Regions from separate parts of the Homo sapiens genome. Here all the other regions are linked to region 3. The links come from fine-mapping of genetic effects on gene expression. A gene starts in region 3. Each other region holds a variant in brackets. All regions are shown on one strand. Distances are from middle to middle.

What was found. PIP is the estimated chance that this variant, and not a neighbour inherited with it, causes the effect.
Region 1: its variant is fine-mapped to the expression of CHST10 in whole blood (TOPMed, PIP 0.95).
Region 2: its variant is fine-mapped to the expression of CHST10 in whole blood (INTERVAL, PIP 0.91).
Region 4: its variant is fine-mapped to the expression of CHST10 in whole blood (INTERVAL, PIP above 0.99).

What each region holds. Positions count from the first base shown.
Region 1 is chr2:100,534,175-100,539,324 of GRCh38, forward strand. No RefSeq gene overlaps it. Among named protein-coding and RNA genes, the nearest start is that of PDCL3, 26 kb to the right of the region's middle. RefSeq lists an enhancer at 3,659-4,210. The variant C/T (reference allele first, on the strand shown) is at 2,860.
Region 2 is chr2:100,169,744-100,174,893 of GRCh38, forward strand. No RefSeq gene overlaps it. Among named protein-coding and RNA genes, the nearest start is that of AFF3, 30 kb to the left of the region's middle. The variant G/A (reference allele first, on the strand shown) is at 2,743.
Region 3 is chr2:100,415,567-100,420,716 of GRCh38, forward strand. CHST10 (carbohydrate sulfotransferase 10) reads right to left here and starts at 2,102. Exons shown (of 7, transcript NM_004854.5): 1 at 1,808-2,102. RefSeq lists silencers at 1,598-1,747, 1,758-2,207.
Region 4 is chr2:100,250,261-100,255,410 of GRCh38, forward strand. It overlaps LINC01104 (long intergenic non-protein coding RNA 1104), which reads left to right. Exons shown (of 3, transcript NR_103730.1): 3 at 1-1,224. Among named protein-coding and RNA genes, the nearest start is that of LINC01104, 45 kb to the left of the region's middle. RefSeq lists an enhancer at 4,747-5,150. The variant C/CTGTGTG (reference allele first, on the strand shown) is at 2,407.

The DNA of each region.
Region 1 (5,150 bases), 120 kb after region 3:
AATATAAAAATATTTTACTCAACTAGCTTCCTATTGATTAGGTGGGTTATTATGCAAAGATGAAAGACAGCTCTAATGCTTGCTACTTTTCTCCTAAATTTCTAGATTTTATTTCCTACACAAGATCTAAGAAATTGAGGGAGAATAGTCTCAGTGATTTTGGTAGTGCTTTTGGCCACCCTGCTCCATGTCACTGGGTGTTCCAATGTCATTGGCCAGGGACACCACAGGAAAAGCTGCTGCAGTCATTGGTGCATTGGCTTAGAAAGTTCATTTCTCCACTTGCCTCCTTCAGACCCCTGGACCCTTCCCAAATACCAGCTCCCCTCAGTTCGCAAGTGCTTCGAGTTGGTGCCATTGACCTTGACTCAGACCCAGCCACTCCATAGAGCACTGCTGCCATCTGTCCCACAGACCATGGAGAGGACTTGAGGCAACAAGTCACGATGTTTGGCCCTGCAGTGCCTCCAATCAAGCCTTTGGCTATTTGGCCCAGCTCGTTAGGACAGGGAAATGGGTCACCCCCTTTCAGACTCTCTCAATTTTACTAACTTAAAGAGATGTCAGAAGCAACAAACCCTTGTTTTGAAAATGAGTGATTTTGTTTATCTTTTTTTTTTTTTTTTTTGAGACAGGGTCTCACTCTGTCACCTAGGCTGGAATACAATGGTGCCATCATAGCTCACTGAAACCTTGACTTGCCAGGCTCAGATGATTCTCTCACCTCAGCCTCCCGAGTAGATGGGATTACAGGGGCACACCACTACATCTGGCTGATTTTTGTATTTTTTATAGTAGAGATGGGGTTTCACTGTGTTGCCCAGGCTGGTCTCGAACTCCTGAGCTCAAGTGATCCACCGGCCTCAGCCTCCCAAAGTGCTGGGATTACAGGCATGAGTCACCTTGCCTGGCTCTTGATTATTTTTATCTTAATCCCTTAGGAGAAAAACAAACTGTTGTTTTGAGTAGTACAGAAATAAGATTTAAGGATATTGCAGGCCGGGCGCGGTGGCTCACGCCTGCAATCCCAGCACTTTGGGAGGCCGAGGCGGGTGGATCACAAGATCAGGAGTTCAAGACAAGCCTGGCCCAAATGGTGAAACCCCATCTCTACTAAATATATACAAAAATTAGCTGGGTGTGGTGGCAGGCGCCTGTAATCCCAGCTACTCAGGAGGCTGAGGAAGGAGAATCACTTGAACCCGAGAGGTGGAGGTTGCGGTGAGCCAATATCATGCCACTGCACTCCAGCCTGGGTGACAGAATAAGGCTCCGTTTCAAAAAAAAAAGAAAAAAAGAAAAAAAAAAGAATATTACAAAAAGCAGACCAGGCGTGGTGGCTCATGCCTGTAATCCCAGCACTTTGGGAGGCTGAGGCGGGCAGATCACAAGGTCAGGAGTTCGAGACCACCCTGGCTAACACAGTGAAACTCCGTTTCTACTAAATACAAAACAATTAGCCGGGCGTGGTGGCGGGCGCCTGTAGTCCCAGCTACTTGGGAGGCTGAGGCAAGAGAATGGTGTGAACCCGGGAGGCAGAGCTTGCAGTGAGCTGAGATAGCACCACTGCAGTCCAGCCTGGGCGACAGAGCGAGATTCCGTCTCAAAAAAAAAAAAAAAAAAGAATATTGCAAAAAGCTTTGAATTTCGATGTGATTAGTTCAAGTGGAGTTTTATTCCTTCATGAAGGTTGCTGAACACATTTTTTTTTAAGGACCTGCTATGGGTCATACTGATATCGTATTGCTTGGTCAGTCCTAAGACTTCTGTTTTACTGTGAATGCTGGTCAGCTGTACCTGAATTCCAAAGGGAGGTGAGTAATGAGGCATTCCCCATCCTCCCCCTTTCTTATTATGGCCTGAGCTAGAATTTCAGATGAACTCTGGAGTGCCCTTGGCCAAAAGGAGCAGTCCATTCAGTCGGTTGGGGGACTTAGAATTTTATTTTTGGTTTCCAGTGTTTTTCCCAACCACCAAGTAGCAGACAGCAGCTATGTGCCTTCAATTCAGTCCCCACACTCTCTACCTAGGGATAGCATCAGATCTTGTTGACAAAAAGAGTCAAACTCTGTAAAATATTTGGATAGATTTATTCTGAGCCAAATGTGACAATGGCCCATGACACAGCCTCAGGAAATCCTGAGAACATGTGCCCCCACATTTCTTATTTGAATCTTTACATATGCTAGAACAGATGAACAAAGATGCTTAAGTAATTTTCCTGGCAACATATAAATATAAAGCAAAGCAATGGATGTAGTTTATTGAAAATGTTTGCACTAAGTATGTATTTCCATTGATTAAAAGCCTTGTCTGAGGTGGTTGGCACAAGGGGAAATAGCTAGGCTGTGTTCATCTCAAACATTCAATACATGTAGCATTCAAAACACTTTAATAGTTAACCACCTCTTCCTCCTTGTCTCGGCCCCTCAAAGTGCTGAGATCAAAGGTGCGAACCACCGCATCCAGCCTAAAATCTCCCTTTGATGGATCGCATTAACTATTTAAAAACGTTTTCTCTAATATATGCTACTTATCTAAATCACAGTCTCCAGATTTAGAGAATTCTATTCAAAGAGAAGGGTGTCCCCATAGCCTTACATAGCAAATAGCAAGATTAGACCTCTAAGAATTTCAACTAATTAAATTATTAACTATAAAATAGCCGGGTGTGGTGGCTCACGCCTGCAATCCCAGCACTTTGGGAGGCGGGTGGATCACGAGGTCAAGAGTTCAAGACCAGCCTGGCCAAGATGGTGAAACCCCGTCTCTACTAAAAATACAATAATTAGCAGGGTGTGGTGGCAGGTACCGGTAATCCCAGCTACTCGGGAGGCTGAGGCAGGGGAATTGCTTGAA[C/T]CCAGGTGGCAGAGGCTGCAGTGAGTGGAGATCACACCACTACACTCCAGCCTAGGCGACAGAGTGAGACTCCATCTCAAAGAAACAAACAAACAAACAAAAAAACTTAAAATTAGCCAAGTGTGGTGGCACATGCCTGTAATCTCAGCTACTCAGGGGGCTGAGGCAGGAGAATCGCTTGAACCTGGGAGGCAGAGGCTGCAGTGAGCCGAGATTGCGCCACTGCACTCCAGCCTGGGCAACAGAGTGAGTCTCTCTCAAAAAATTTAAAAAGGGAGATTTTAGATAAATATTTTCTTCCTTTAATAACACTGATATCCAAAACCTCTTTAAAGATACAATCTTGCCGAGCGCAGTGGCTCACGCCTATAATCCTAGTGCTTTGGGAGGCCGAGGCGGGCAGACCGTGAGGTCAGGAGTTTGAGACCAGCCTGGCCAACATGGTGAAACCCCATCTCTACTGAAAATACAAAAAGTAGCTGGGCATGGTGGTGGGTGCCTGTAATCCCAGCTATTCAGGGGGCTGAGGCAGGAGAACTGCTTGAACCCAGGAGGTGGAGGTTGCAGTGAGACGAGATCAGGCCACTGCATTCCAGCCTGGGAGACTGAGCTAGACTCCGTCTCAAAAATAAAATAAAATAAAAATAAAGATACAATCTTCACTGACTGATACAGCTCCGATGAGTGGAGGAACACCACCAGGGCTCTTGTCTCCCACGAATTGGGTAAAACGACATGGACACACATGGAGTGGTTTTAAGGAGTGGAAAGTTTAATAGGCAAGAAAGAAGGAAGAAGCTCCCCCATTCAGTGACAGTCAGAGGGGACTCCAAATCCAAGAGAGGAGACCCCATGTGCCACAGAAAAGTGGCTGCTTATATGAGTAGGCTGGAGGAGGTGGTGTCTGATTTGCATAGGGCTCAGGGGATTGGTTTGACCAGGGATGTCATTCACCTAGCCAGCAAAAAAACTGGCCCTCCGACCCTAGCCTTTTAATATACAAGGCGTCAGGATGTTGTACCCACGTGGGGATATGTGAGGGCGGCCATATTGTCAGGCACAGGTCAGGGCAAGGGCAAGGAGAAGAGGGCGGAAATCGCCTTGTTTGGCTGGACTCAGTTTCTAATGGCTTGCATTTGCATATCAAAGGTTGCCACTTGGCTCTAAGAGCTGGGGCTTTCCTGCTAGACAAGAAACGTTTCAGCCAGGGGTGGTGGCTCACGCCTGTAATCCCAGCACTTTAGGAGGCTGAGGGGGCTGGATCACCTCTGGTCAGGAGTTCCGACCAGCCTGGCCAACATGGTGAAACCCCGTCTCCACTAAAAATACAAAAAATTAGCCAGGCATGGTGGCGGTTGCCTGTAATCCCAGCTACTCGGGAGGCTGAGGCAGGAGAATCGCTTGAAGCCGGGAGGTGTCGGTTGCAGTGAGCCAAGATCGAACCATTGTACTCCAACCTGGGCCACAGAGCAGGACTCTGTCTCCAAAAAAAAAAAAGTTTATGGAGCTGCTTTAAAAGAAACAACTTTCCAAGGACCCCTTTTCTTCTCTATCTGCCTAAAATAATTTCTTAATAACTCACACAACATTACGATAATTGTTGTCACATGATATAAGCTTCAATTATTTCATAACACTGGTCCTGTCCTTCTTTCAAAACATCATAGCTGACTCAACACTAGATGGGTAAGAAATGCTATATTTTGCTTCCCTGATTCTCAAAACTATAAAAAAGATACAACTTTGAAAAGTTTCATAGAGTAGGCTGGGAAACACTGATGTCACGTTGCAGAAAAATCTAGGCTCTGAAATAACACCACGTCCCACCCAACCCAACCCCACCCTGTTTTCCCTTATCTCTGATAGCTGAGTGATTATGTTAGCAAAAAGCAAGAGGATTTTAAAATTGAATGTGCCTCCCAAGAGCTCTCAGTGTACCAGGGCTGACTTTTAATATTATTAAGGCTGGAGTGGTGGCTCATGCCTGTAATTCCAGCACTTTGGGAGGCTGAGGCAGGCAGATCACAAAGTCAAGAGTTGGAGACCAGCCTGGCCAACATTGTGAAACCTCGTCTCTACTATAAATACAAAAATTAGCCGGGCATGGTGGCGCGTGCTTGTAGTAATAATATAGACTCCGTCGCAAAAACCATACATATATATATATATATAATTTAAATATTAACATTTTAATATTAAAATTTCTGAAGATGATTCAGCTCCTTATAGAAAAGGATCCAAGTAAAGCCAGGCTGTTTTCCACCTCCTATTGGAGGACATCTTAGCAAGAC
Region 2 (5,150 bases), 250 kb before region 3:
AAGCACGTGAAAGATGCACAATACTATTAATATGAGAAATGCAAATTAAAACCACCATGAGATATTACTACACATAGATTAGAATGTCTAAGATTAAAATGTCCAAATGTACCAAGTGTTGGAGATGATGTGGAGCAACCGCGATTCTCATACATTGCTGGTGGGAATGTAAATGGCACAACTATTTTGAAAAACAGTTTGGCAGATTTTTAGAAAGTTAAACACATACCTACCATATGGCCTAGCCATTCTACTCCTAGATAGACTAGACAAGAAAAGAAAACGTATGTCCACGCCAAGATTGTATGCAAATCTTTTTAGCAGGCTTATTTGCAATAGCCTCAAATGAGAAACCAACACACATCAAGAGGTGATTGGTTAAATGAATTGCAGTGTGTCCATACAGTGGAAGTATTGCCCAGCCAAAAAAAAATAAAAAAGAATTATCAATACAAAGCACGATGCAAATGAATCTCAAAATAGTTATGCTGAGTGAAAGAAGACTGACAAAATGAACAGACTTATGATTTTGCCTCTATTAAATTTAAAGAAAAGGCAAATAATAGAAAGTGTCATCAAGCTGAGGGATGAGGCATGGGGAGGGCAGTGGGAGGTACCACAAAGGAGCACAAGCAGTCTTGTGGGAATGCTGGAGCTTTCCATTATCTTGATTGTGGTGATTGGTAATGGTCTCACGGGTGTATACATATGTTAAAACTTATCAAATTATTTACTTTAGGTATGTGTGCATTCTCATCTGTCAATTCACTTCAGTAAACCTGTTAATAAATTTAAATACAGTTTTTCTACAAAGATATCTTTTGTCCTAGAGGTAGTCACTGGTGAATTCTTCTGAACTTAAGGAAGAAATAATACCATTCTTACACAAACTCTTTTAGAGAACACATGAAAAGAAAATACTTTCCAACATGTTCTATAAACCCAGCATATTCTTGATAGCAAAACCAGACACAAGAAGACAATACAAAAAAAGTCAGCTAATCTCTCTTCTGATGCAAAATCCTAAAGAAAATATTAACAAACTGTATCCTGCAATTTATGAAGAGTATAACATATCACAAGGAATTGGTTTTTTTCAGTAATGCAATGTTAGTGTAACATCTGAAAAAATAGTTCAATGTAATTCATGTTATGGATGTAATTTCATAATAGATGTGAAAAATCATATTATTTCAACAGATTTATAAAAAGCATTTGATTAAATTCAAGACTGATTTATTTACTTTAAAAAACACCAAACTAGATATAAAAGGGAACGCCCTTAGAATGACAAAATATTTACAAATAGTCTACAAGAAACATTTTACTTAATGTTTCTTATAGAAACATTATAGAAAAGCTAGTGAAAGCTTTTATCCCTGTGATTAGGCATGAAACAAAGGTGTTCACTCTCACTGCTTCTTTTTTTCTTTTTTTTGAGACAGAGTCTCTTTCTGTCGCTCAGGCTGGAGTGCAGTGGTGCGATCTCGGCTCACTACAACCTCTGCCTCCCAGGTTCAAGCGATTCTCCTGCCTCAGCCTCCCGAGTAGCTGGGATTACAGGTACCCGCCACCACACCTAGCTAAATTTTGTGTTTTTTAGTAGAGACGGGGTTTCACCATGTTGGCCAGGCTGGTCTCAAACTCCTGACCTCAAGTCATCCAGTCACCTTGGCCTCCCAAAGTGCCAGGATTAGAGGGATGAGCCACCGTACCTGGCCTTGCTCTCACTGCTTCTGTTCACTATTATACTATATAATATGGCCAGTACAAGAAGGTTAGAAAAAAATTACAAGAATTGACAGGAAATAATAAAACTGTTATTCTTCACAGCAGCATGATTGTTTATGTAGGAAAGATTCCACAAACACTCAGAATTAATAATAAATGTAGTGAGAACACAGAAAACAGAGTCAAAATACAGCAATCAATTGTATTTCTACATATGAGGAACAATCACAAAATAAAAATTTAATAAGATACAATTTAAAAAAATCAACAAACGTCATATAACTAGGAATAAACTTAATGAAAGTTATGTAATTCTTCTGCACTGAAAATTACAAGATAGTATACAGAGAAATTAAAGGAGACCTAAATAAATGGAGGATATACCATATTTATTTTTTATCCTATAAAAATCTCATTTCTCCTCAAATTGACCTATTGATTCAGTAAGTTTATATGGGAATGCAAAGGGCCAAGAAGAGTCAAGACAACCTTGAAGAATAAGAAGAAAGATGAAGATCTTATCTAACCACAGAGTAATTCCTTATTTATTTATTTATTTATTTTTGAGACAGGGTCTTGCTCTGTTACACAGGCTGGAGTGCAGTGGCATGATCATGGCTTACTGCAACCTCCACCTCCTGGGCTCAAATGTCCACAGGGGCCACAGGCGTCCACCCCTGCGCCCGGCTAATTTTTGTATTCTTAGTAGAGACAGGGTTTTGCCATGTTGGCCAGGCTGGTCTCAAACTCCTGGCCTCAAGTGATCTGCCCACCTTGGCCTCCTAAAGTGGTGGGATTACAGGCGTGAGCCACTGTGCCTGGCCATACCCACAGTGTAATTTCTATGGAAACAATGGAGAGTCCAGAAACAGACTGGCATGTACATTGTCACTGATTTATGACAAGGGTGACACTGCAGCACAGTGGGGGCATTTTTTCCAAAGGCAGTGCTGGGCCAATTGGATACCCATAAGGGACAAAAATCTTGACATCTGCGTCACACCATACAAA[G/A]TTACCAATTCCAGGTGACTTGCAAATCTACCTGTGAAGGGTAAACCATAAAACTTCCAGAAGAAAACATTGGAGAATATCTTTGTGACACAGGGTTAAGCAAAGATTTATTAAATAGGATACAAAAAGCATTGACTATGAGGGAAAATTGATAAATTAGACTATGTTAAAATTAAGAATTTCTGTTCCTCAAAAGAATAGAATGCTAGGGAGTTAAGGTGCAAATCATTGAATAGATCAAAGTATTTGCAATTCATATCTAACAGAGAATTTGATAAAGAAATTATACCAATAAATGAAGAAAATGCAGACAAACCTTGGACAAGACATGCAAGCAGCTATATCACAAAGGGAAGACAAATGTTCAATATTAATATGAAAGCGTTTCACATCATGAGACATCAGATGAATACAAACCAAAATCACAAGGAGATACTACTGCATATACACCAAAATGATTAAAATAAAAAAGACAGACAATACCAAGTGTTGATAAAGATGTGGAACAACTGGAACTCCCAATCACTATTGATGAGTGTGTAGATTTATACAACTCTTTGACAGTAAAATCTACTAATGCTGAATATCTGCATAACTTATGCCCCTGGGTATATCCCCAACAGAAATGTGTACACACACTCCAAAATGCACATGCAAGAATATTTATAGCAGCATTACTGATGGACGCTGAAACGAAAAACAGCCCAAACGTTCTTCAGCATCAATACATGAATCAATAAATTGTGGTATAGTCCTACAACAGAATACTCTACAGTAGGGATCAGCAGACTTTTTTGTCAAGAGCCAGAAAATAAACATCTTCAGTTTTGCAGATAACAGATTGCCTCTGTTGCATATTCTTCATTTTTTTTACAATCCTTTACAAAATAAATGTCATTGTTAGCTTGCGACTCATACAACAATAGGCCATGGTGGGCTGTAGTCTGCCGTTCCCTGCCTTAGATCAATAGCAATGAACGTATTACTGCTACATGCAATAATGCAAATAAATGTCACAAACAGAATTTTGCCTAAGAGAACCCATTCACAAGAGAGTGCATACTTATAATTCCAGGCAAAACTGATGATGGTAGAGGACTTGACAGCAGTCACCTTTGGGGATAATGGTAGTGATGAAAGAGGGCACATAGAGAGCATCTGAGGTGCTGGCAGCATTGTTTCCTGATCTGGGTGATCATCATATATGTATGCATTTAGTGAAAACTTAGTTATACACATATGATTTGTATAATTTTCTAAATGCATATTATACTTCCATAATAATTTTACTTAAAAACTCTATAAAATCACCAATGTTCAGTTTCCTCTGCAATTTTTAGTTGCCAGTAAAGTTAGCCAATTCTTAACTGCCACTGTATGCCAGTTTCTTTTTAGCTGTCCTAATCAGTAAAACCTTAGCCCACCAAAATACCTAGCACCATCTAAAATGTTTGCCAGTGGCCCAGAAGAATGTGTTTGTGGCTCATAGTCAATAGACTGTTGTTAAATAAAAGCAAAATTATTGGCTTTCCTTGTCATGAGAAGGGGGAGAGAGATCGAGAAAGAGAGAGAAAGAAAGAGGAAGCAAGACAGAGTTGGAAAGCAACGAGAGCATTGCCCTTGAGGACAATGGCCCCAGCATCTGGCCTGCGGTCCTTCTGCTGGATCACAACACTTCTATTTTCAGTAGAAAAGAATTAAGAGCACTCTTTCATTAGAAACAAAAAGCCTAGCTGAACATATTTTTCTCATTTGTACTTTATCCTAAACATTTGTAAAGATTTAGCAGCTCACTCCAGCAAGCCTTTTTAATCCACATTCCAGTAATAGAGATTACAGAAATGCTTTCTCAAGGACATTCTTGTGTCCAGGCTTCAACAGAGCCAAGATACTTCATCCTCTTAGGGCGCCTGGTGAAACCTCGAGATCGTGACCCACAGGACAGACAAGAAGATGATTCTCTGAGCCTGGCGTTCTCAGACCAGCATTCTGTCAGGATGGGATTGGAGGGCAAACCCCAGGGTGTGGGCATGAACAGTGGCTCATGCCTGTAATCCCAGCACTTTAGGAGGCCGAGGTGGGCAGATCACCTGTGGTCAGGAGTTCGAGACCAGCCTGGCCAACATGGCGAAACTCAGTCTCTACTAAAAATACAGAAATTAGCTGGGCATGGTGGTGCATGCCTGTAGTCCCAGCTACTCAGGAGGCTGAGGCAGGAGAATCACTTGAACCCAGGAGGCAGAGGTTGCAGTGAGCCGAGATCGAGCCACTGCACTCCAGCCTCAGCAACAGAGTAAGAGACTGTCTCAAAAAAAAAAAAAAAAAGAAAAAGAAAAAAGAAAAAAAGAAAAAAAAGAAAAAGAAAAGAAAAGAAAAAAGAAAAAGAAAGTGGTCAATGCTAGGAAATG
Region 3 (5,150 bases):
CATGGATTTAGGAGATCTACCAAAATAAACATACAACTCATTTAACATACAATAAAGCCCAAGCTGACTGGGACACATGCAGCACGGTCTCTCTCTGCCTCCCTTTACTCTAAGAACTCAATGCTAAAATTAAAAGCAATTTCCTATTATGTTGATTGAAAGATTAAGCTTTATATACAGTCATTCATCACTTAACAATAGGGATACCTTCTGAGAAATGTATCGTTAGGCGATGTTCTTCTGCAAACATCAGAGCGTTCTTACATAAACCTAGATAGTACAGCTAACCACACACCTAGGCTATATGGTACAGCTGACCACACACCTAGGCTATATGGAATCATCTATTGCTCCCGGGCTACTAACTTGTACTGCTGTTACTGTACTGAATACTGTAAGCATCTGTAATACAATGGTAAGTATTTGTGTATCTAAAATTAGAAAAGGTAGAGTAAAAATAAGGTAGTATAGTCTTATGGGACCACTGTTGTATATGTGGTCCATCATTGTTAGAAACATCATGTACGGCATTTGATGGTCCTCACATCCAGGTTATCCAGAAGTGTATGAAAAGAAAATGAACTCCTGGGTTTCTGCAATCTCTAAGGTCCTGCAACCACCTCTCTCCCCTGTTTCTATTCCTGGCTCTCTCTCACCTTTTTATTGTATGAACTCCTCAAACACTGAAAAATGATCCGAATATAACTGCAAGTTGCCTGTGATGTTTACAAATTCTTTCCTTTCTTTGTTCAGTTTTGCAAACACTCCAATTTTCATTTCAGCGAAGAAGAGAATTTTCTGCTCAGGTATTTCTTTGAGATTCTATTCTTCAGGGTCAAGAGCAATTCTGAATTCTGAATTCCAATTCTGAGCCAAGATGGACTAAGCTCTTAATTATAATGGGGAGGGAAGGGAAAAGACCACTTCTCTCTTTGTGTCTTTTCATTTTAACCCAGTCACTGAAAAGAGTGAAGGAGGAGGTGGTTGGTTATCAGAGAGCCAGAGCTAAACTGAGCTGCCTAATTTTAACAGCGTCTGAGACATTTCTCACTCTGGCACTCTAAGCAATGCAATAACCCAACTCCTCATGGCCCAAAGCCCCAGACTCTGGTTTTCAGACAAAACAACAACAACAACAACAACAACAAAAACCCACCGTTATGACAGTCCTGCCGCTGAGCTAACCAGAACCTGGCTGCACTACTTTCCATTCACTGCCCAACCCTTTCCTGCCTTGCAGACTTGGAAAGCAAAAATGACATTTTGGAAAACCTGGTTCACCTTCCCAGCCAGAAGTGCAGAACTGCATGCCTCAACCTCCAACTTCGGACAGGCCTCCTGACAGCGAAGATCAGAGGCTCAGGGCACCCCGGGGCCCCTCAGGCAGGGAACGTGCATTCCCACCCCTGACTCCCCTCGCACCGAAGCTGCACATGCTCCTTCTTCCCTGCCTTCCTCTGCATGCTCCTTGGACCCAAGCTGAACCCTTTCTTCCTCTCTCCATCTACAATTACAAACGCAAATTCTCAGCCAAGGATGAAAGAAGTAAATTGTAGGCTCGCACAATATCAATAATTCCGCGGGTCACAGCATCCCGCACAAGGACGCCTTCTTATTGCATAATTAACGCGAGGAAGGCTCTTCCCGCTACTCCCGCGAACTAGGGAGGTCTTCAAGTCGCCAAAACACACCGGGATGTGGCTCGCCAGGACAAAACCCGCGGGTTCCCCGGTTTTTCCGTGCGCCCCGCGGCGGGGAGAGGGGCCCAGGCGCTGAAACCCACCCGCCTGCGCGTCCCCGAGCTCACCCTACTGGAGCGGCGCTCGTCCGGGTCCTTAGGCTCCTCCCCTGGCCCTGGGGGCGCCGCGCGGGTCGGGCTTCGCCGGGCCTGTGGGCGAAGCGCGCGGGGTCCTGGGAGCTCGGGAGGCCCGCCCCACCTTGCCCCGAGGCCTCCGCGCCGCGGCCCGTCGGGTCCCGGGATGTGGCGGCGGCGGCAGCGGAAGTAAGGAAGACGCCCGGCGCGCTAGACCGGCTTTGGGGGCCAGAACGCCGGCACCGCCTCACGCGGCCCCCTCGCGCCTATCCGGCCGTGCGCGCCGCCTGCCCGCGCGCGTCCCCGCCGCCGTCCCCGGCCGTGCGCGTTCCAGCGGGTCGCGGGGAGTGGGGAGGGGCGCGGCCGCGGGACCCCAGGCCCGGATCCCGAGTCTCCCTTTCTGCCGCTGCAAAAGCGTTCTTTCTGACCGAGACCTGCGGCCGGAACAAGTCCCGCTGGGCCTCCATCCAGAAAACAGGTTCGCTTTTTGAGAAAGAAAAAAAATCCCAAACTTGGAAAAAGGCAAAAAACCAAACCAAAACAACAACAAAGTCACACACACACACAAAACCACCTTGGAAAAATACAAAAAATAGATAAGTAAATTTCTTAAATCCCCAACTTGGAAAAAGGCCACTTGCTTGCGTTAAGGGTAACTTCTAGCATTTTCTAATAAGCCTACTTAGTAAAAGGGGGACGTTCTATTCTTTAAAGAACCCCCTTGGCTGTCCGGGTTGGGGATGTAACTGTTGTCTAGGTACAGTGGATTAACGAAGGACAATGATAACGGCCTGACCAGTTTACAGACCTGAAGAATTGTAACTTCTTAACCTGCAGAAATGGATAAGGCCTGAGTCAACCTCAAAGGTATTGGGATTTTATTGCCCCAAAGAAGATAAACTAGTTTTATTTTTATACAACCTACATGTTTGTTAACTACCCGACTATATCTGTGTCTATTTAGCAAACAAGTAAAATAGATACGTGTATGTATACACACACACACACACACACACACAATTTTTCAAAGCTTTCAAGGAACAAGCGTTTTTGTTTTTGTTTTTTTTCTTTTTTATTGGTTCCCTCCTTAATGAGTTAATAATATTGAGGGAGCTGGCTGTTTGAGTATTTCACTTCTAGCCCCATTACTAATCATGGTTTAAAGGTTCTGTCCCTCATGCAGAAGACGTTTACTGAGCCCTTTTTTGGGGCCCTGTGGTTGAGATGAGACATTGGGTTTCCCTTTGAGGATTTGAATCGATACACGTGCACGGCAGAAAAGAAGTAAGTAAATGTGAAGCTTGGATGTGATGCAGCATATTATGCAGGATTTAAGGATCAAGGCTCTGGGAATCAGACCACGTGGATTCAGAGCCTTAGTCACTGCATATGACTGTTGACCTTGTCACACTCTCATCTCTCTGTGTCCCAGTCTTCTCATCTACAGAATGTGGTACTAGGCCGGGCGTGGTGGCTCACGCCTGTAATCCCAACATTTTGAGAGGCGGAGGTAGGTGGATCACCTGAGGTCGGGAGTTCGAGACCAGCATGACCAACATGGAGAAACCCTGTCTCTAATAAAACTACAAAAAAAATTAGCCAGGAGTGGGGGCACGTGCCTGTAATCCCAGCTGCTCGGGAGACTGAGGCAGGAGAATTGCTTGAACCCAGGAGGCGGAGGTTGCGGTGAGTCGAGATCTCGCCACTGCACTCCAGCCTGGGCAACAAGAGTGAAACTCCTTCAAAAAAAAAAAAAAAAGTGTGGTACTAAAGAATATTGTAGAGGATGCATTTAAAATACAAAGCACAGTCATCCCGCAGTAGTAAACACTGCAACAAACACACACTATTGTCACTGTTATTACTGCATTCCCAAGATACTGTTCAAAACTTTAAAAGATGGAGTTTGTTCTAGAGGCTTACACATTGACAACTAAGGTAACTGAGGTTTTTTGGTTTTTTTTGTTGGAGTTTTTCAAAATAGTTCCTCTTTTTTTCCTATAAATGAATGTCTAGGAAAATATTAGTATTTAGTCTTTTTTTTTTTTTTGAGACGGAATCTCGCTCTGTCGCCCAGGTTGGAGTGCAGTGGTGCCATCCCAGCTCACTGCAACCTCTGCCTCCTGGGTTCAAGTGATTCTCCTGTCTCAGTCTCTCAAGTAGCTGGAATTACAGGTGCGTGCCACCACACCCGGCTAATTTTTGTATTTTTAGTAGAGACGGGGTTTCACCATGTTAGCCAGGCTGGTCTCAAACTCCTGACCTCAAGTTATCCACCCGCCTCAGCCTCCCAAAGTGCTGGGATTACACGTGTGAGCCAAATATTTAGTCTTTGTAGCAGGAGGATTGTTTCTAAAATAGCAGTTCGCAAAGAGTGATCTCCAAAAAGTGGATCTTTAGGAGTCTCCAAGATCCTTTCAGAGGATCTGCAATGACAAAACTGTTTTCATAGTTGAACTGGGACATTATTTGTCCTCTTTACAATGTAGACATTTGCTCTGATTGTGCAAAAGTAAGCACAAATCCCAGCAGTGGGACAACACCAAATCAGTAGTAACTGCATCCTTCACCACCATGCACTTGCAGTAAAAACAAACACAAAGTGTCACTGAAGAATGTCCCCCGTGAAGCAGTCATGTCCCTCATGACAGGGTGGGAAATGCACAGAAACAATCCTGCTGCATCCCAAGGATGATGGTTGCTGAAGGCCGTGCCATTGTGCAATGGCCTGCAATGCACAAGCTGCAGCTCTTTTTTATGGAACGCCAGTTTTACTTGAAAGCAGAACTGACAGACAAACTGCAGTTACCCAGATTTGGGCATTTGGCAGACATTTCCTCCAAAATGAATGACATGGGCCTGTCACTTCAAGAAAAACAAATGATAGTGTTTGTTGTCTGTGATAACATTCAAGCTTTCAAGTGAAAAATCAGACTTTTGCAAAACCTGTATCCATCACTGTAAGTTTGACAGCTTCCCAATATTTAAAGATTTTTCTGATGAGATCAGAAGTAGTACTAACAACTAGTTGTAAAAAAATATTGTATAGTGATCAACCAGTTGTAGTGTAATAAGAAATATGTATTTGGCCTTTGACCCTGGTTCCTGACTGATACAGTTTGGCTGTGTCCCCACCTAAATCTCAGTTGTAGTTTCTGTCATCCCCACGTGTCATGGGAGGGACCCTGTGGGAGGTAATTGGATCCTGGGGGCAGTTACCCCCATGCTGCTGTTCTCCTGATAGTGAGTGAGTTCTCATAAGATCTGATAGTTTTATAAAGGGCTTCCCCCTTCACTCAGCACTCATTCTCTCTACTGCCGCCCTGTGAAGAGGTGC
Region 4 (5,150 bases), 170 kb before region 3:
GAGTAATGACCATATGCCAGGTGCTTTCACACCCACATCAATGCTCCAGACTCCAAGAGCTGGCGGTCATTGGATCCAGTTCATAGGGTGGAGAAGAGGAGGTTCAGAGTGGTGAACTAACGGGCCCAGGTCACACAGCAGAACAGTGAAAAGGTCATGGATGGCTTAAAATACCAGCCCTTCCTTCACCCTCCTTCAGCCTCTTTCTCTCTCTCTCTCTCTCTCTCTCACACACACACACACACACACACTCCCTTCATAAAAATCTCACAATGGCAAGTGTCTTATATGAGACACACAGAGGAGAAGATCCTGTGAAGAGGGAGGCAGAGATTGGAGAATCACAGCCACAAGTCAAGGAAGGCCGACAACCACCAGAAGCTGGAAGGGGTAAGAGCAGCTTCCCCGCGCTGTTTCTAGAGGGTGCATGGCCCTGCCAGTACCTTGATTTTGGACTTCTGGCTTCCACAGTTGTGAGATAATACACTTTCCTTGTTTTACGTCAACATTTTGTGTAATTTGTCTCGGCTGCCACAGAAAGTGAATAGAAATAGTTTTCCCTCAGCGCAACCTGGTGATGCACGTGTTCACTTTGAAAACACGTCATTTCCACCTGCAAAGGTTTTAGGTTCCTCAAAGGGACTGTGCAGAGGGATCGCTGCAAGTGAAGTCAACATTTGGCCTCATTCTGTTAGAACACCTGCAAGAGGAGGCTCAGGTGCTGACTGAACAAATCCCCTGGCTCTTGGGGTGGTCCATGCCTTTACCGAATGCCTCCTTTGTTGGGGTCATTCTGCTGGGAAGACATTCCCATTGGAAGATACTGGACCTTTCCTTTACCATGTCAGGCATGACACTCCTACGTTAAAAAACTGTCCATACCAAGGGCATGACAGGCAATTCATAGAAGAAAGCAGGATGATCAATGGCCTATGAAAGGATCCTCAGCTGTGGCTAGGCGCAGTGGCTCACCTCTGTAATCCCAGCACTTTGGGAGGCCAAGGCAAGAGGATCACTTGAGCCCAGGCGTTCGAGACTGGCATGGGAAACATGGCAAAACCCCATCTCTATAAAAACTTAGCTGGGTGTGGTGGCATGTGCCTGGAGTCCCAGCTACTCAGGAGGCTGAGGTGGGAAGATCATCTAAGCCCAGAAGGTTGAGACTGCAGTGAGCCACCATCGTACCACTGCACTCCAGCCTGGATGACAGAGTGAAACCCTGTCAAAAAAAAAAAAAAAAAAATCCTCAGCTGTTCTAGAATCAGAAGGCAAATAAAAACCACAGTGAGACACCTTTCAATTACATCAGATCACCTGAAATCAAAAGTGTTTCACAACAGCACTGGTAAACAATGTTTTTTGTTTGTTTGTTTTTTGAGATGAAGTCTTGCTCTGTTGCCCAGGCTGGAGTGCAGTGGCACCGTCATGGCTCACTGCAACCTGTGCCTCCCAGGTTCAAGCAATTCTCCTGCTGCAGCCTCCCAAGTAGCTGGGGTTACAGGTGCGCACCACCACACCTGGCTAATTTTTGTATTTTCAATAGAGACATGGTCATGTCTACATGTTGGTCAGGCTGGTCTCAAACTCCTGACCTCAAGTGATCCTCCCGCCTTGGCCTCCCAAAGTGTTGGGATTACAGATGTGAGCCAGTGAGCCCGGCCATAAACAATGTTAATAATTGTAGCTTTGTTTAGTTCGGGAAAAGGAAAGAACCCAAATGTTCACTGGAAAGAGGATAGACCTGTAAATTGAGGCACAGTTACACAATGTTAATTACCGATAAAGCTGGGCCTAACCACAGGTTGCAGGAGATATATATATCTATATAGGACACTGTGGAAGGTTGGTCAGTGTTTGAGGACTGGGGTGAGTAAGAACACACGCTTGGTTAAGGTGATTTTCACTTTTTTACTGAGGAACAGCAGACAAACAGCACAAAGTATGTAGCCAAGTTTAAGGGTAAAGTGAACGGCTTAGATTCCTTTTTTTTTTTTTTTTTCTGAGATGGAGTCTTGCTCTGTCACCCAGGCTGGAGTGCAGTGGCGCAATCTCGGCTCACTGCAACCTCCACCTCCCGGGTTCAAGCGATTCTCCTGTCTCAGCCTCCTGAATAGCTGGGATTACAGGTGCACGCAACCACATTTGGCTAATTTTTTGTATTTTAGTAGAGACGGGGTTTCACCGTGTTGCCCAGGCTGGTCTCAAACTCCTGAGCTCAGGCAATCCACCCACCTTGGCCTCCCAAAGTGTTGGGATTACAGGTGTGAGCCACCGCACCCCACTGGCTTATATTCCTTTTTACATCTTTAGTTCCTCAAACAAGCTCCATGGTCGGTGGTCTCTACAGCCTGTACAGAATGAGGAGTTTCCCAGGCTAAAGGCCGGATCTGAGGGCTCACTCACTAC[C/CTGTGTG]TGTGTGTGTGTGTGTGTGTGTGTGTGTGTGTGTGTGAGTGTGCATGAATGCATGTGCCTGTGTGTGCATGTGTGCACACACACAGACGTTGGGGGAAGGATACACCAGCACTCACAAACCTATTATTTTTATTATTCTTTATTATATCATACTACCTATAATTGTTCACGTCTTAAAAATAAATATGAATCAAATCCATAAACATGTTAGGATTTGATAGAGTCAACAATGGGGCCAAAGGTGGGATTATATTCACAGGGCTTTTCTGTAGTATGCAACATTTCATTTCAAAAATCCGTCCCTGGGTCCTGTCAAGTTACCATCTGCCATCCCAGGTAGAAGTCAGGAACTAGAAGAACTCGCCAAGGTTTGGGAACCTTTGCAAATTGACCACTTTTGTGCTTTCTGTAACCCAGTCTCTCCTTGCAGGGATTATCAAAGCCGTTCTAAAAGTCGAAGAGTCCTGTGTATATATGTTTTGGTGGTCAGAAGAAAGAAGCGAGTGCCCAGGAGGCAGTGTGGAGTTTTCATGGATGACCTCCCAGGCTTGTCTCCTCCTGAGCCAGGGCAGGCCGCCAGATGGGCGTTCCAGCCCAGGGGAGAGCTGTGCTCAGCGGAGCCCCAGCTCCGTAGAATGTGAGTCCCTGGGCCAGGGTGGAGGGGCCCGGTTGGTGAAACCTTGCTTCTGGCCCTGAAAAAGACTTGGCAGGCTTTCCTGCCCAGTGGCTTAGGTGGCGCCTGAGGCATCTTAGGAAAATGCTGTTCAGTTCTTTAGAACCTGAGGTCTGGAGGATCTATTAACATGCTTTTCCCTGGGCTGACCTTAGGACCAGTTCGTTTACCGACATGAAGCGGCATGGCTTTCAAAATGAACAGTGGAGCCAAAGAGAGCAGGAAAGCAGAGAGACCCATGTCCACCCTGAACGCTGGTTGTAGAGGTCCCAGCTGATCACTCCTGGTCTTGACCACTTCCCTCCCCTCCCTTCAGCTGCAGCCTCTCATGCCTTTTGATTATGGTGCTGATGAAAGCGGTGGAAGCAGCTCTTCTCTCAGCATCGGCTACTCCACTTTGCAAGGCCTGCGTTTGGGTTGTGCTTTTCAAGTAAGGAGATGTTGCTACCCTGGGAATCACATCAATGTGTTCTTAATATTTAGGGCTTATTGGTACATGCCTGCTGACTCAGTGAAGGTCCTATTGGATGACAAAAACAAGCAGACCAAAAACTCAAAGGGACTGATATGGTCTGAGTGGCCACAGCTTGATCTGGGCTCATTTTAGAGGCGCTGGGCTGTGCTGCCCTGTCCCAGGCTGCTTGCTGCACACAGCTGTTGGGCGCTGGAAGAGTGGAGAGTCGAGCGGAGGTGGGTGCCGAGTTGAAAACCCACACCAGATTTCAAAGACAAAACAAAGGAAAATAACTCATGAATAGTTTTTCTATGGATTACATGTTGAAATGCTAATTTTTAGATATTTAATATATTAAGTGAAATAAAGTAATATTAAAATTGGTTTCATCTGTTTCTCTTCACTTTTAAAAAATATGGCTACTCGATTACCCATGTGGCTTGCATGTGTGGCTGACATTGTATTTAAGTTGTCTTAAGGGAATGTTACCCTATATATACTAAGGAATCCAGGCTTAAATGAACAAAAAACAAACACCCAAAAAAACAGCAACCAAACCAAACACTCTGCCCGGATGACCCAGCTGTTCCAAAGGTTCTTCTTCTTTGTCTTTTTTTGAGATGGAGTCTTGCTCTGTCACCCAGGCTGGAGTGCAGTGGCAGGATCTTGGCTCACTGCAAGCTCTGCCTCCCAGGTTCATGCCATTCTCCTGCCTCAGCCTCCCAAGTAGCTGGGACCACAGGTGCCCGCCACCACACCTGTATTTTTTTAGTAGAGATGGTGTTTCAGCATGTTAGCCAGGATGGTCTTGATCTCCAGACCTCGTGATCTGCCCATCTCGGCCTCCCAAAGTGCTGGGATTACAGGCGTGAGCCACTGCGCCCGGCCTTATTATCTTTTAACCAATGGTGGTGGGAGTGGCTGGCCTGAACAAGGGAAGCAGGAGGTGCATTGTCTATAGAGAATTTAAAATGAGAAGAAAACTAACTCAAGTTTAGCCCTCTTTTCATCACCACCACAAGCTCCGTTGTGAACAATGTCAGTCCTGAATGACGGCTCCCTGCCCAAATGGGCGGCTCTCGCAGCCCCTGCCCGGCCAGATGTGTCATGTCAGGTGACTGTGTGGTACCTTGGTGTGACTCTTGGCCTTTCTCCCGTCTGTAGAGGGGCCCTCTGGATCCAAGTGGCCATGGCTAGCTTCCTACAACCCAGCCTTCCTGACTTCTCCCAATTTCCCCTCAGCCTCCCGGCCTTGGGCTCGCTCTCCAACGTGAAGTTCTTGCCTCTGCCTTGAATCAGGACTCTGTGGCCTCACCACCACCTGCTGGCAAGCTCCTACCCTTGCCTCAGGACCCGGCCTGGCCTCTCCCCTTCGGTGAAGCCCTTAGCGTCTCGGTCAGTTGGGGCTGCAATAACAAATTACCATAGACTGAGAGGCTTCAAGATAAACACTGATGCTCACAGTTCTGGAGGCTGGAAGTCTCAGGTCAGGGGCCACATGGTCAGGCTCTGGCGACGGCCCTCTGTCAGCTTCTCATGTGTCCTCACATGGTGGAAAGAGGGCAAGAGAGCTCTCGGAGGTCACTTTTATAACGACTCCAATGTCATTTATGGGGG